Linked DNA regions of Homo sapiens: region 2 is linked to region 1. The links come from fine-mapping of genetic effects on gene expression. A gene starts in region 1. The other region holds a variant in brackets. All regions are shown on one strand. Distances are between the middles of the regions.

The links.
Region 2: its variant is fine-mapped to the expression of COLGALT1 in lung (TOPMed, PIP 0.95).

Annotation. Positions count from the first base shown.
Region 1 is chr19:17,551,106-17,559,430 of GRCh38, forward strand. It overlaps COLGALT1 (collagen beta(1-O)galactosyltransferase 1), which reads left to right and starts at 4,544. Exons shown (of 12, transcript NM_024656.4): 1 at 4,544-4,868; 2 at 8,206-8,316. The coding sequence starts at 4,609. It overlaps NIBAN3 (niban apoptosis regulator 3), which reads left to right. Exons shown (of 15, transcript NM_001321827.2): 15 at 681-2,535. The coding sequence ends at 793. RefSeq lists a silencer at 4,622-4,711.
Region 2 is chr19:17,577,692-17,586,016 of GRCh38, forward strand. It overlaps COLGALT1 (collagen beta(1-O)galactosyltransferase 1), which reads left to right. Exons shown (of 12, transcript NM_024656.4): 9 at 266-398; 10 at 1,791-1,918; 11 at 3,008-3,214; 12 at 3,486-5,466. The coding sequence ends at 3,753. Among named protein-coding and RNA genes, the nearest start is that of COLGALT1, 26 kb to the left of the region's middle. RefSeq lists enhancers at 2,205-2,414, 2,249-2,543. The variant G/A (reference allele first, on the strand shown) is at 4,950.

The DNA of each region.
Region 1 (8,325 bases):
TTATTTTTTGAGATGGAGTGTCGCTCTGTCACCAGGCTGGAGTGCAGTGGCAGCATCTTGGCTCACTGTAACCTCCACCTTGCGGGTTCAAGCAATTCTCCTGCCTCAGCCTCCCCAGTAGCTGGGATTACAGGCGTCCACCACCACGCCCGGCTACTTTTGTATTTTTAGTAGACATGGGGTTTCACCATGTCGGCCAGGCTGATTTTGAACTCCTGACCTCAGGTGATCCACCTGCCTCGGCCTCCCAAAGTGCTGGGATTACAAGCGTGAGCCACTGCACCCGGCCTACATTTCTTTTTTTTTATTTTTATTTTTTGAGATGGAGTTTCGCTCTTGTCACCCGGGCTGGAGTGCAATGGCGCGATCTCGGCTAACTGCAACCTCTGCCTCTCGGGTTCAAGCGATTCTCATGCCTCAGCCTCCCGAGTAGCTGGGATTACAGGCGCCCACCACCATGCCCAGCTAATTTTTGTATTTTTAGTAAAGATGAGGTTTCACCATGTTGGCCAAGCTGGTCTTGAACTCCTGATCCTTGGTCTCCCAGAGTGCTGGGATTACAGGCATGAGCCATTGCGCCCAGCCAACATCTCTATTAACTCTGATTTTTTAAGCACTTATTACATGCCAGGCATCTGACACATCTGATTTTTGACGTCCGTATATTTTCCATTATACAGATGAGGAAACTGAGGCTGAGCGGGAAGGAGGGGCTTGTCCCAGGCAGCCAGACTCTGGTGCCCAGATCCAGCCACTCTGCCCACCGCCTTCTCCAGGAACATTCCGGAGCTGAATCTTCACCCACATCTATCTTGTTTCTATTGGATAAATGTCTACAAGTGGAATTTCTGGGCCAAAACGGATGTGCCATCTTTAGGCTTTTGTAACCCCTGCAACTTCAGAAAACTGTACCATTTTATACTCCAAGCAGCAGCATTTATTTGTGTATTTTCCCCAAGGCTTTCTTTATTTTAATTTTTTTTTTTTTTTTGAGACTGAGTCTTGCTCTGTCACCCGGGCTGGAGTGCAGTGGCAGGATCTCGGCTCACTGCAACCTCCGCCTCCCGGGTTCAAGCGATTCTCCTGCCTCAGCCTCCCGAGTAGCTGAGATTTCAGGCACCCGCCACCATGCCTGGTTAATTTTTGTGTTTTTAGTAGAGATGGGGTTTCACCATGTTGGCCAGGCTGGTCTCGAACTCCTGTCCTTAAGTGATCTGCCCCCCTCAGCCTCCCAAAGTGCTGGGATTACAGGTGTGAGCCACCACACGTGGCCTAATTTTTTTTTTTTAAATAATAGAGACAAGGTCTCGCTATGCTGCCCAGGCTGATCTCAAACTCCTGGACTCAAGCAATCCTCCTGCCTTGGCCTCCCAAAGTGCTAGGATTATAGGAGTGATCCACTATGTCCAGCCTCCAAATCCTTTCTAAACACTAGGACTTTTCATGAAAAGAAAAAAGCTATGCCAGTTAGACACACACAGAAATCTCATGATTTTATTTTGAATTTCTTTGACTAAATTGAACTTACAAATAAGTTTATTATGGCCAGGCGTGGCAGTGCACACCTGTAATCCCAGCACTTTGGGAGGCTGAGGCGGGCAGATCACTTGAGCTCAGGAGTTCAAGACCAGCCTGGCGAACATAGTGAGACCTCATCTCTACAAAAAATACAAAATTAGCGGCCGGGAGTGGTGGCTCACGCCTGTCATCCCAGCACTTTGGGAGGCTGAGACAGGTGGATTGCTTGAGCCAAGGAGTTTTGAGGCCAGCTTGGGCAATGTGGTGAAACCTGTCTCTACTAAAAAATAAAATAAATAAATAAATAAATAAATAAATAAATAAATAAATAAAATTTAAAAGAAGCTGGGCTGAGATGGGAGATTTACCTGAGCCTGGGAACTCAAGGCTGCAGTGAGTGGTGATTGCACCACTGCACTCCAGCCTGGGTGATGGGAGTGAGACCCTGTCTCAAAAAACAAAATCCAAATATGTTGATTAGCCATTTACATGTTTGTAGTTTTTTTTTTTTTAATTTCAGTGAATTGCCTGTTCATAGCTTTTTTCTACTTTTCAGGAGTGTTTGCATTTTTCTTATTGATATCTAATAACTCTTTATATCTGAAGGATATGAACGCTTTGTGATACAGGTTACAGATTTTGGGGTTTTTTTCTCCGCTTGCTGTGAGCCTTTTGGGTTTGTTTCCTAGCTCCAAATCTTAACTTGGTGTCAAGTTTCCTGGCTGGGAGACAAGCTTTTACCGACTTCCTCTGCTTGCCAGCAAAGTCATCTGCTAACTGGATATTGGCAGCTTCTCTGCTGTCTTGCAGCTGCTTCCGGAGTGGGTTCCACAGGGATTCCCGTGTGTTCTTGGTTCAGCTTGCAGAGGGACTTTCACACTCCCTGGAGACCGTTTCCTCCCATTCTGTCTGGAGTTTTCGGCCTACCCCAAGACAATGAGATATTCCTGACCTTTCCACCTATTTCCCTCCAACCCCACCTTCCGAAATACATTTGCTCAATACATTTGCACTTCATAGGCTTCTTTAGCTGTCTTCCTTTTACCCCGGACGGGATGTAGATGTTAATTCTGGAACAATTGCAGCTACAAGAATTTGTCATCCTGCCCCTTTTGAGAAAAACATTGTTTGCCCTTGGGTCTAAATCCTTCCAGATGGGATGGGATGTATCTTGTCACCTCCTTTTTCTTACTTAATATGAAAAGACCTTTCCTCATCAAGTCCACAGAGTGTAAATTTGTTTTTACCTTTTTTTTTTTTTTTTTGAGACGGTGTCTCACTCTGTCACCCAGGCTGGAATGCAGTGGTGCGATTTTGGCTCACTGCAACCTCCACCTCCTGGGTTCAAGTGATTCTCCTGCCTCGGCCTCCGTAGTAGCTGGGATTACAGGCGAAGCGCCACCATGACCGGCTAATTTTTTGTGTTTTTAGAAGAGATGGGGGCTTCACCATATTGACCAAGCTGGTCTCGAACTCCTGACCTCAAGTGATCCGCCTGCCTCAGCCTCCCAAAATGCTGGGATTACAGGCGTGAGCCACTGCACCTGGCCTGTATCATTCTTAAAAATTAAGTTTTAGCGGGGCATGATGGCTCACTGGTAATCCCAGCAGTTTGGGAGGCTGAAGGGGGAGGATTACTTGAGACCAGGAGTTTGAGAACAGCCGGGGCAACATAGCGAGACTCCATCTCTACAAAAAATTTAAAAATTAGCTGGGCGTGGTTGAGTGCACTTGTAGTCCCAGCTACTTGGGAGGCTGAGGCAGGAGGATCAGTTGAGCCCAGGAGGTTGAGGCTGCAGTGAGCCATGATCATGTGATCATGCCACTGCACTCTAGCCTGAGCCACAGAGTAAGACCCTCTCTGTGAAAATAATAATAAGCTGGGCGCGGTGGCTCACGCCTGTAATCCCAGCACTTTGGGAGGCTGAGGTGGGCGGATCAGGAGGTCAGGAGTTCGAGACCAGCCTGGCCAATATGGTGAAACCCCATCTCTACTATAAACAAAAATTAGCCGGGCGTGGTGGCGCGTGCCTGTAGTCCCAGCTACTCAGGAGGCTGAAGCAGGAGAATCGCTTGAACCCGGGAGGCGGAGGTTGCAGTGAGCCGAGATCGCGCCACTGTACTCTAGCCGGGGCAATGGAGTGAGACGCTGTCTCAAAAAAAAAAAAAAAGAAAATAATAATAATAATAATAATAATGTTCAGATGTATTTTTTAAAGTTTTTATTGTTTTTAAAAATAGAGGCACGGTCTTGCTATGTTGCACCACTGCACTCCAGCCCGGGCAACAAAGCCAGACTCCGTCTCAAAAAAAAAAAAAAAAAAGTGTGATACTAAGTCAATCAATTTGAAAATGCGGCTCTAGAGTATTGGAAAACAATCCCTTGACAGCGTTTCCATGAAAACATGGCCCTTGTCTCTGGAAGAGCTTGTGCCCAGAACGGTCCATTATCATGCCCTGGCTCTATTTTCACGCCAACCCTATAGGGTCTCTATGATCTCATTTTATAGATGGACAGACTGAGGCTCACATATAGCAAGCCCAAGGCGGGGACTGAATGTGACGCCAGGTCTGTGGACGTCATGACCTTTATTCTCCACAACCCTCAATGACATCCCTGTGAGATCCAAAACCAGGATGGCAAAACCCACGTTGCAGCAGAGGAAACTGAGGCTAAGGTCTCTTGGGTCCCAAACCAGGTCCTAAGTAGCCAAGTCCGCCTGGTGGCACAGCCCGGGTTTTATACATGGGGAAATTGGGCGGCGCATCTGGCGGAGGTCTCAGTGGTAGGAGGCGCCTGGAGGAAGCGCGGGTTCCTAACCCTAACGCTACCCCTAACATCCCTTCCACGCGCTCCGAGCGCTATGTGCCTTTAAGATCGGTGCGGGGGCGGGGCGTCCTGGGTAGGGCTGCAGGTGACGTCACTCCGGGCCTTGGGACTCGGAGAGCGTCTGGAGGCGGGGCCTGGACTTCACGCCCGGCGCGCTCCTCCCCTTTAAGGCGCGCGGCCGGGCGGGGCCCCTATGACCCCTTTAAGGCGCGGCCAGAGTCCTCCCGCAGAAAAACGACTTAAAGGAGACGCGTGGCGCGATGGCGGCGGCCCCACGCGCGGGCCGGCGGCGCGGGCAGCCGCTCCTGGCGCTGCTGCTTCTGCTGCTGGCGCCACTGCCGCCGGGGGCCCCGCCGGGCGCCGACGCCTACTTCCCCGAGGAGCGCTGGAGCCCGGAGTCGCCCCTGCAGGCGCCGCGCGTGCTCATCGCGCTGTTGGCGCGAAACGCGGCCCACGCGTTGCCCACCACGCTGGGCGCACTCGAGCGGCTGCGGCACCCGCGGGAGCGCACGGCGCTATGGTGAGTCGAGCCCGCTGTCCCCATCAGGCGGGTCACGCGAGCCCCTGCTTGCTGTCCCCATAGGGGTGGGTCCACGCGAGCCCCTGCCCGCTGTCCTCTTCTGGGCGGGTCCGCGCGTGCTTCCTGCTCGCTACCCCCATCGGGACGGTTCTACGCATGCCCCTGCCCGCTGCCCCCATCGGGACGGGTCCACGCGTGCCCCCTGCCTGCTGTCCTCCCATGGGGCCAGACACAGCCCTCCCCACAACACAAGCGGGACCGAGTTCCTCCTGCTGGCTCCTTTGGGGTGGGCTGGGCACCGCTTCTGCCTGCTGGACCCTACTAGGGCAGCTCCGGCCTCACTAACTGGGGCTCTAACTCCCTCTGGGGCACGTACACCTCCAAAGGACGGAGCCCAGAGCCCCCACTGGGGCGTTGCCAGAGGCCACATCTAACAGCAAGCCTTTCTGTGCCGGCTGCTGCCCTTAAGCTTGAACTCAGCCTGGCTCCAGGCCCCAGTCAAACCCCTGCCCTCAGACCGGCGTGGGTGGAGTCCAGGACCAGATGGCCCAGGAGGAAGTGGATGCTTTCTTGGTAGGGAATGGGGCAGAGCTCTGAAGAAACCTTTGACTGGTGACTTCTCACTCCCTGCCTCAGTTTTCTCAAATGGAAAATGGGTCCGGGTGCAGTGGCTCACGCAGTAATCCTAGCAATTTGGGAGGCCAAGGTAAGCGGGTCACTTGAGCTCAGGAGTTCGACACCAGCCTTGCCAACATGGCAAAACCCCGTCTCTAGAAAAAAAATACAAAAATTAGCCAGGTGCGGTGGTGTGTGCCTGTAGTCCCAGCTATTCAGGAGGCTGACGCAGGAGAATCGCTTGAGCCCAGGAGTTCGAGGCTGCAGTGACCTATGATTGCACCACTGCACTCCAGCCTGGGCTACAGAGTAAGACCTGCCTCTAAAAAAAGAAAAAGAAAAGAAAATGAGCGTATTAATATAATTCTCTTTTTGGGTTTGTCTCTGAAGATTATCCAGTTAATGGATGTGGAGCCCTTGGGTCTGGCATGGGCTTGGCTCTCAGTGATTTTATTATCATGATTACTGTCATTGCTGGTGTTATTGTCAACTTAATTTATTGGGCAGAATTAGCTTTTGGCACTACGGTCAAACTAAACTCCCAAATGTCGCTTTTCCTTCCACCTGATTTCTCAGTCTGGATAATCCAAATACACAATTGGTACTTAACAAATGTTTGTTGAATGAATAATTGACTGCAGCCCACTGAAGTGGTGTGGCTCACAGGAGAAGATGAAGGCAGGGTAAGGGATTTATGAGATATACTTTGAGATATACTTTTTTTTTTCTCTCAGACGGAATCTTGCTCTGTCGCCCAGGCTGGAGTACAGTGACACGATCTCAGCTCATTGCAACCTCCGCCTCCGGGTTCAAGTGATTCTCCTGCCTCAGCCTCCCGAGTAGCTTGGGATTACAGGTGCGCACCACCATGCCTGGCTAATTTTTGTATTTTTAATAGAGTCAGGGTTTCACCATTGTGGCCAGGCTTGTGTTGATCTCCTGACCTCATGATCTGCCTGCCTCGGCCTCCCTAAGTGCTGGGATTACAGGCATGAGCCACAGCGCCCTGCTGAGATATACTTTTTTTTTTGATACAGGGTTTTACATCTGTCGCCCAGGCGGGAGTGCAGTGGTGCAATCCTAGCTCACTGCAACTTCCCCCTCCTGGGCTCAAGTGATTCTCCTGCCTCAGCTTCTTGAGTAACTGGGACTACAGGCGTATGCCACTGCGCCCAGCTAATTTTTGTATTTTTTCTAGAGATGGGGTTTTGCCCTATTGGCCAGGCTGGTCTCGAACTCCCGAGCTCAAGTGACCTGCCCACCTCGGCCTCCCAACATATTGGGATTACAGGCGTGAGCCATTGCACCCAGCTGGTTTCTGATATATACATTTCATTTTTTAATATTTTTTATTTATTTATTTTTTGAGACTGAGTCTCGCTCTCGTTGCTGAGGCTGGAGTGCAGTGGCACGATCTCGGCTCACTGCAACCTCCTCCTCCCAGGTTCAAGCGATTCTCCTGCCTCGGCCTCCTGAGTAGCTGGGATTACAGGTGCCCGCCACCACACCCAGCTAATTTTTTGTGTTTTTAGTAGAGATGGGATTTCACCATGTTGGCCAGGCTAGGCTCAAACTCCTGGCCTCAAGTGATTCACCCGCCTCGGCCTCCCAAAGTGCTGGAATTACAAGCGTGAGCCACCATGCCCGGCCTAATTTTTGTATTTTTAGTAGAGATGGGGTTTCGCCATGTTGGCCAGGCTGGTCTCAAACTCCTGACCTCAGGTGATACACCCGCCTCGGCCTCTCAAAGTGCTGGGATGACAGGCGTGAGCCACCGTGCCTGGCCTGATCTATACATTACAAAAATTGCCGTGTGCGGTGGCTCATTCCTGTCATCCCAGCACTTTGGGAGGCTGAGGCAGGTGGATCACCTGAGGTCAGGAGTTCGAGAGCAGCCTGGCCAACATGGCGAAACCCCATCTCTACTAAAAATGCAAAAATTAGCTGGGCATGGTGGTGGGCACCTGTAATCCCAGCTACTCGGGAGGCTGAGGCAGGAGAATTGCTTGGACCTGGTAGGCGGAGATTGCAGTGAACCAAGATTGTGCCACTGCACTCTAGCCTGGGTGACAGAGCAAGACTCTGTCTCAAAAGAAAAAAAAAATTAAGTGACACATATTTGTTAGTGAATGTGGTTTGCAAGATCTTAGATGCTCAGTAATAAAACAGCCAATCACTAATGGGTCTTTCCAAAATCAGCTTGTTTAATCCTTCCACTTCCCAGTAAACTGGGTCCTGTTCCCACCCCCATGTTACAGATGAGGAAACTGACATGGAAAGGGAGAAATGGGCCGGGCGCGGTGGCTCACGCTTGTTAAGTCCAGCACTTTGGGAGGCCAAGGTGGGCGGATCACGAGGTCAGGAGATCGAGACCAGCCTGGCCAACATGGTGAAACCCCGTCTCTACTAAAAATACAAAAAAATTAGCCGGGTGTGGTGGCGGGCGCCTGTAGTCCCAGCTACTTGGGAGGCTGAGACAGGAGAAGGCGTGAACCCGGGAGGCGGAGCTTGCAGTGAGCCGAGATCGCGCCACTGCACTCCAGCCTGGGCAACAGAGCGAGACTCTGTCTCAAAAAAAAACAAAGGAAAGGGAGAAGTGTCCTGTCCAGGGATACATAGCTGGTGGGAGGCCAGTTGGGGATGGTGGTCCTTGACTTGCCTCACTGCTGCCTGGTCCTGCCTCAGTCTCCCCAAGTACGCTGCCTGTCCCCTCTCCCTGCAGGGTGGCTACGGACCACAACATGGATAACACGTCAACTGTGCTGCGGGAGTGGCTGGTGGCCGTGAAGAGTTTGTACCATTCCGTGGAGTGGCGGCCAGCAGAGGAGCCCAGGTGAGCATC
Region 2 (8,325 bases), 27 kb after region 1:
TGGGTAGGTTTGCATGCTGCCAGTGTAGACTGGTGGGGACTGTGGAGGGGTAAGTCAGTCAGACCCCAGGAGAGGAGGAGAGCAGGTTTGCCCGCGAGTGTATACCATGTGCAGGTGAGTGAGGCCCCATGTGCCCGGAAGGGGTGCCAGTGCTACAAGAGGTGGACCAGCTGCTCAACGCCGCAGGGGGTGGTGGAATGGCCGGGGATGGCAGAATGGCAGGCAGGGTGAACCTTCTTCGTGACCCTCTCCTCCTCCTCTCCAGAGCCATGAACACCAGCCAGGTGGAGGCGCTGGGGATCCAGATGCTGCCTGGCTACCGGGACCCCTACCACGGCCGGCCCCTCACCAAGGGTGAGCTGGGCTGCTTCCTGAGCCACTACAACATCTGGAAGGAGGTGTGTCCTGAGTGATGGGCGGGGCCAGAGTTATGACTCTAGATCTCATCGGAGATTTGGACGGGAAAGGGGTTGAAAGAGTTCCCCAAAGCCCCGGCTAGGCATCCAGCCTCAGCCATGGGACCCATGGCCTCTCTTTAGTGAATGATGCGCCACACCAGCTGTATCACCCCCAGGTGTACCTGCCATCCTTCCATTGCGCAAATGTGGAAACTGAGCCTGGGGGTAGGGGTGAGCCCTTTTGAGCAGCAGGTGGTGTCTGGGGCCTGGGACCTGTAAACAAATCCTCATTACTCCCAGCCTGGTCTCTGTGCTTGATGTTTAGTACTAGAAGTCATGGCCACAGAGCCACTTTAAACCAGCACCTGCCCAGTGCTGCTGGGGGCACTCACCAGCCCAGGCATCCTCATCCACCCTCAGAGGGAGAGGCTGTGATTGGAGGAGGGTGTCTGACTAGGCTTCGAACTTGGGCCATCAGGGCCGGGCATGGTGGCGCACACCTGTGGTCCCAACTATTTGGGAGGCTAAAGTGGGAGAGTGGCTTGAGCCCAGGAGTTAAGGCTGCAGTCAGCCAAGATCGTGCCACTGCACTGCAGACTGGACAGCAGAGCAAAACCGTGTCTCAGAAAAAAGAAAAATGGCTGGGCGTGGTGGCTCATGCCTGTAATCTCAGCACTTTGGGAGGCCGAGGCAGGCGGATCACCTTAGGTCAGGAGTTCAAGACCAGCCTGGCCAACATGGTGAAACCTAGACTCTACTAAAAATACAAAAATTATCTGGGTGTGGTGGTGGGCACCTGTAATCCCTCTACTTGGGAGACTGAGGCAGGAGAATCACTTGAACCCAGGAGGCAGAGGTTGCAGTGGGCTGAAATCATGCCATTGCACTCCAGCCTGGGCGACAAGAGTGACACTCCATCTCAAAAAAAGAAAAATAAAATCCGGGCGTAGTGGCACATGCCTGTAATCCCAGCTGCTCAGGAGGCTGAGGCAGAATTACTTGAACCTGGGAGGCGGAGGTTGCAGTTGAGATCGTTCCACTGCACTCCAGCCTGGGCGACAGGGCGAGACTCCGTCTCAAAAAAAAAAAAAAAGAAAAAGAAAAGAAAAACTTGTTATCGAATGTGAAGCCAAATGGGGGTGTGCGGCTGCAAGGCGGGAGGTGCATGAGGCGTGGGCATTTGAGGGGCTGGGAGGCCTTTCTCTTCTGAGATCCATTATGGACGGCAGAGGGCAGAGGTTTGGATGTCCAGATGTCCCTGGAGCTAGGAGAGGCAGGGAGATGCACTGGCTTCTCTACGGGTCTTTCAAACCTTCTCAAAGCAAAGCTCTGTGCTTTAGGGTCAGGCCTGGCCTTGGCCTCCCTGTGATGTGGCGGGGCTTCCTCCCTCAGGTGGTGGACCGGGGGCTGCAGAAATCGCTTGTGTTTGAGGATGACCTGCGTTTTGAGATCTTCTTCAAGAGACGTCTGATGAACCTCATGCGGGATGTGGAGCGGGAGGGCCTGGACTGGGACCTCATGTGAGTGGGGGTCTGAGGATGGGGTGAAGCTGGGGCCTGGGGCAAGGCCAGGACTTAGAGGTGGGGGTGGGGGCAGGGTGGAGCTGGGACCTGGGGATGGGTCATGGCTTAGAGGCGGGGCTTGAAGGTGGGGTGGAACTGGAGCCTAGGTACATGGCCAGGGCTTAGAGGTGGGGCTGGGAGGCGGAGTGGAGCTGAATCCTACGGGCGTGGCCACAGCGCTGCAGCTGAGCCTAGAGCCTGTATGTCTGGGTGTGGTCAGGGTGGCAGGCGTGGCCAACCCTTGGAAGCGTAGCAGGAGGGCTCACGTGGTTCCTGGGCCTGAAGGCACTGTCAGGGCTGTAGCCTATAGGGAAGGGCGTTGGAAGGATCACCCAGAACTCAAGGGACCTGGCCGGAAGCCTGCAGGCTTGGTCAAGGCTTAGAGACTTGACTGAGGCCTGTGGAGGTGGATGTGGCTAAAATTTGACCGGGCAGCCTGTGGGCGTGGCTGAAGAGCATGGGGGTGTGGTCAGAGCTGGAGGTGTGGCCGAAGAGTGTGGGGGCGTGGCCAGGGCGCCTGGTCTTAGACAAGCCCCTGGATGGGAGTGCCACCAACATGTTTCCAGCACTGGAGCCGTCCTTCTCTTCTGTAAGTGGGCTGGTTTGTCCTCTCCCTTCCTCCATCTCTTTTTTCCCTTCCATGTGCAGTGCCCTAATCTGCATTCTGGGAACACTGCCCCATGTGAATAGTAACTGCACCCCTCCATTCCTGACTGCCCCCCCATCAGGGCACCTCGCCCACCTCCACCCCCACTGTCCTCTGAACTCAGAGCAGCTTCAGCCTCAGAGAACGTCTGCGTGATCCTGCTCTCCCCAGCTCCAGATCCTCCATGGCTCCCTCACGCCCTTTGGAAAAACTCACTCTTCTCCCCCATGACCGCCAGACCCCTGGGCTCCTGCATTCACTCCATCCAGTCACAGAGCTCTGCAAACATGCTGAGCCTGCTCCCATCCCAGGACCTGACGGGGTAACTAGATCCCTGGCTTTCTGGGCAAGCTCCCTCCGGAGGGCGGGAGGAGAGTGACAGGCCCGATCTTGCACCCCAGCTATGTGGGCCGGAAGCGGATGCAGGTGGAGCACCCCGAGAAGGCTGTGCCTCGCGTGAGGAACCTGGTGGAGGCCGACTATTCCTACTGGACCCTGGCCTACGTGATCTCCCTGCAAGGCGCCCGCAAACTGCTGGCTGCTGAGCCGCTCTCCAAGATGCTGCCTGTGGACGAGTTCCTGCCCGTCATGTTCGACAAACACCCAGTGTGAGAGGGGCAGGCGGCTGCTGGGCTGGGGTTTCACGGTGGGTCTGTCCTGGGAGAATGGGGATGTGAGACTCACGGCCTCCGAGAAGATGTCTCTTCTTTTGCCTACTTCTCCCTCCGTTTGCCCCCTCGCAGATCTGTCTCCATTTGTATCCCCTGCACACTTACGTTTTAATCTGTCCCCGCTGACTTCTTCACCCCCAATTTTTCCTCCAGCTGTCCCGTCCCCTGAAGCCATTGCTGCCCCTCACTCCCCTCCTCCTCCCCCCAGGTCCGAGTACAAGGCCCACTTCTCCCTCCGCAACCTGCATGCCTTCTCTGTGGAGCCGCTGCTCATCTACCCCACACACTACACAGGAGACGATGGCTATGTGAGTGACACCGAGACCTCAGTCGTATGGAACAATGAGCACGTCAAGACCGACTGGGACCGCGCCAAGTCCCAGAAGATGCGGGAGCAGCAGGCACTGAGCCGTGAGGCCAAGAACTCGGACGTGCTCCAGTCCCCACTGGACAGTGCTGCCCGGGATGAACTCTGAGGGGTAGCAGCCAGAAAGCCAAAGCAGCCATCGGTGGCCCAGGCTCCACGTGCTTACTGAGGACATCAGGTCCACCTCTGGACCCCTTGGCAGGCCACAGAGGGCTCTCGTGTGGGGTGGTGTCCAGCCAGCTCTTGCTAAGCAATCACGTGCACACAGGCAGCATTAATGGAGTGCCTACTGCATGCCAGCAACAGGGCTTGGCCCTGGGGAATTGGGAGGAACCAAGCCCTCTTCATCTGTTCATGTGCCCAGCATTTATTAAGCACCTGCTGTATGCAAGGTTCCCATGTTACGGCAGTGAATGAGGCATAATTGTTCCCTCCATCAGCGATTGATTCAGTCATCAAGCAGTTACTGATCAGATTAAGAATCAGGCACTAGTGATACACATTCATTTTTAAAATTCATTCAAGGATTTATTGAGTGCCTACTGTGTGTTGGGTGCCATTCCAGGCTCTGGGATTTTTTTTTTTTTTTTTTTAAGAGTAGAGTCTGTCTCTGTCACCCAGGCTGGAGTGCAGTGGTGTGACGGCTCACTGCAGCCTGCGCCTCCCAGCGTCCAGCAATTCTTGTTTCTCGGCCTCCCAAGTAGCTGGGACTATAGGTGCGTGCCATCACATCTGGCTAGTTTTTGTATTTTTAGTAGAGACGGGGTTTCACCATGTTGGCCAGGCTGGTCTCGAACTCCTGACCTCAAGTGATCTGCCCGCCTTGGCCACCCAAAGTGCTAGGGTTACAGGCATGAGCCACTGTGCCCAGCCCAGGCTCTGGGAATATTGAGATAAATAAGATGCTTCTATCCATTTATTCAAGCACATATTGGTCACCTACTGTGTGCCTGGCACTCATGTCACAAAGATAAGTTCCTGATTCGGTACACTTACTGAGCACCTGCTGTGTGCAGGGAGCTGAGCTATGGGATGGGAATGGGAGTAAACAAGGTACTTTTTACTTTTTTCTTTTTTTCCTCACTGCTAGACGGTGTGGGAACTTCTCACTCATTGGCTTCTTTCCCACACACCTGAAGAGCACTGACTGTGTGCCGGGCACTAGTGATACAAAAGAGTGTGACAGTTGTTCAGTCTGCATTTTCGATCATGGGCTACATGCCGAGTGCTGGGGCACAGAGATGAACAAGATCGGTTCCTTCACTTCTTCATGCCACAAGTGTTTATTGAGCACCTGTGTGCCAG[G/A]CCTCACAGACTCCCAGTTGGGTTGAAGAATGGTTGACTGAGTTTGATTCTTCCTGTACCCTCGGTCGTCTGAGCTGTGTGCAGACAACATCCCCCCACCACCCAAGAGGGAGGGTAGCTCTTCCGCCACCAGGGGCAAGCACAGGTCCTGGTGGCCCCACGCCACATGTTAGCCCCCCTGGAGGGGGCGCCAGTTGGAGACGGGGGCTGGGTGTCCCTGGCCCACTCCCGGTCCCCTGTGCTTTACCTCCTTGCCCTTGTGTCTCAGGTGTGGTCCCTGCCTGCTTGATGAAGTTGCTCTGTTCAAGCCTTTGGTGGGATCATGTGTTTGGGGGCTTTTAGGGGACCCAGCTGCACTGGGGCACTGCCCGTGGCCTGGGTAGGACATTTCCCAGCAAGGGCTGGAGGAGTTGCCGTGCCTTCAGCCTGAATCGAATGTCAGAACCAGCCAGCGGTGCTTCACCCTCTTGGGGATAACTTGCTTAGTTTTTTAATAAATGTTCCTGGTTGGTTTTCACAGCAGTTTGTGGGATTTTGCTCGGCACCAAAACACTGCCCACGTTCCCCACCCCTGGATGGCCGACAAGATTTGGGAGGAAACCAGGGCAGGTGCAGTAGGGAAGCTGCCCAGTGGGGCCTGGCATGGTGGCTCATGCCTGTAATCCCGGTGCTTTGGGAGGCTAAGGTGGGCGGATCACTTGAGGTCAGGAATTCAAGACCAGCCTGGCCAACATGGTGAAACCCCCTCTCTATTAAAAGTACAAAAATTAGCCTAGTGTAGTGGGGCGGGGTGGCGGGGGGGGGGTACCTGTAATCCTCGCTACTTGGGAGGCTGAGGCAGGAGAATCGCTTGAACCTGGGAGGTGGAGGTTGCAGTGACCCAAGATTGAGCCACTGCCCTCCAGCCTGGGCGGCAGAGCAAGACACAATCAAACCAAAAAAAAAAAAAAAAAGCTGGCCAGTGGAGCTACTGTGGGGTGAGGGTGTGGTAAGAGCCCTGTGTCCCCTCATGCCATAAAACTTCCCCCAAACAGGCGGGGGACCGACAGCTCTGTCTTGAGTCAACTTCAGGATCCTTCCACATGACTTCGAATAAAGAGGGGCTGTCGTGCTTTGAGTCCCCCTAAAACAGACCTCAACATGAGGATTAGGGCTGGGCATGGTGGTTCACGCCTGTAATCCCAGCACTTTGGGAGGCCAAGGTGGGTGGATCACCTGAGGTCAGGAGTTCGAGACCAGCCTGATCAATAAGATGAAATCCCGTCTCTACTAAAAATGCAAAAAGCAGCCAGGCATGGTGGTGTGTGACAGTAGTCCCAGCTACTTGGGAGGCTGAGGCAGGAGAATCGCTTGAACGCAGGAGGTGGAGGTTGCAGTGAGCTGAAATCTTGCCACTGCACTCCAGCCTGGGCAACAGAATGAGACTCCATCTCAAAAAAAAAAAAGGATTAGGCTGGGTGAGGTGGCTCACTCCTATAATCCCAATGCTTTGGGAGGTTGAGGAGGTGAGAGGATTGCTTGAGGTCAGGAGCTCAAGACCAGCTTGGGCAACAGAGTGAGACCCTCGTCTCTACAAAAAAAATTGAGAAATTAGTTGGGCATGGTAGGGCACACCTGTAATCTGGCTACTCAGGAGGCTGAAGCAGGAGTATCTCTTGAGTCTAGGAGGTTGAGGCTGCAGTGAACCATGATCACACCACTGCACTCCAGCCTGGGCAACAGAGCAAGACCCTGTTTCTATAAAACAAAACCAGAAAACTTCCCTGAAATAGCCCAGGGACAGGTGGCCAACTTCATTCTATCTTGGATCAACCACAGGATCGTCGCAGATGACTTCAAATGAGGAGGGGCTGTCATGGTTTGGGTCCCCTGAAACAGACTCCAAGATGAGGATTGAAGGGCACTTACGTTATCAGTGACCCCAGGAACTTGCTGTGGAGCAGTAGGGAAGTGAGACAAGAAGGGAAAGAGTGGTCCCACCCCAGGGAGAGGGGGCTGGACATTACAACATGCCCAGTTGCATTTGGATTTTCTGGGTCAAATGCTTACAAATCCTCTGGATTATTACACCTTTAGGGTGTGCAAGAATATACCCGAGACTTTTATAAACTAACACAGGGGCCAGGCGCGGTGGCTCACACCTGTAATCCCAGCACTTTGGGAGGCCGAGGCTGGTGGATCATGAGGTCAGGAGTTCGAGACCAGCCTGGCCAATATGGTGAAACCCCGTCTCTACTAAAAATACAGAAAAATTAGCTGGGCATGGTGGTGAGCGCCTGTAGTCCCAGCTACTTGGAGGCTGAGGCAGAAGAATCACTTGAACCTGGGAGGCGGAGGTTGTAGTGAGCCGAGATCACGCCACTGCACTCCAGCCTGGGCGACAGAGCAACACTCTTGTCTCAAAAAACAAAAAACAAACAACAACAAAAAACCCTAACACTGATGGTGTTCAATCAGTGTGGAAAAAATCAGAACTTACAGCTAAGCAAATTGACAAAGCAAAAATTAAATCACACCTTTTCAGACACAACTAACATTTTCAAAAACTTTCCAGCCTTCCTTATTTGCATGGTGTAAATATATATGCATTTTTTAAAAAAGGAGGACCATGTTACCTAAGCTACTGCAACTTGCCGTTTTATTTTTCGTGGAATGCACTTTTATTTTCTAAGCATGGGATCAAACTGTACCTATTTTTTAAAAAACAACTTTTATTTTTAAATTTAACAACTATTGTGGACCTCCTTTCCAAAATAGGGTTAACATCTACGAGCTCTTTTTGGATTGTTATGGAAAATATTCCCTGCTGTTTCCTGCAGTGGATAGCATTATACAATACATCTTTCCTACTGGATTTTTTGTTTTTTTGTGTTTTTTTGTTTGTTTTGTTTTGCTTTTTGAGACGGAGTCACACTCTGTCACCCAGGCTGGAGAGCAGTGATACGATCTTGACTCACTGCAACCTCCGCCTCCTGGGTTCAAGCAATTCTCCTGCCTCAGCCTCCTGAGTAATAGATTACAGGCGCCCGCACCACACCTGGAGAATTTTTGTATTTTTAGTAGAGATGGGGTTTCACCATGTTGGCCAGGCTGGTCTTGAACTCCTGACTACAAGTGATCCACCCGCCTTGGCTCCCAAAGTGCTGGGATTGCAGGCGTGAGCCACTGCACCTGGCTTCCTACTGGATTTTAAAATTTCAGTTGGGTAAATTGAGACAGGTGGGATTCCTGGATTAACCTGGATGTGCACTTCAGGTTTCAGTAGAGGCTATCATATTCCTTTTTCTTATTGAATCCTAACTATTCATCATCTATTGGCCAGAGTGAATTATCCATGTTTATTAAACAGTCCCTTCTGTGAAACATTTTTTTTTCT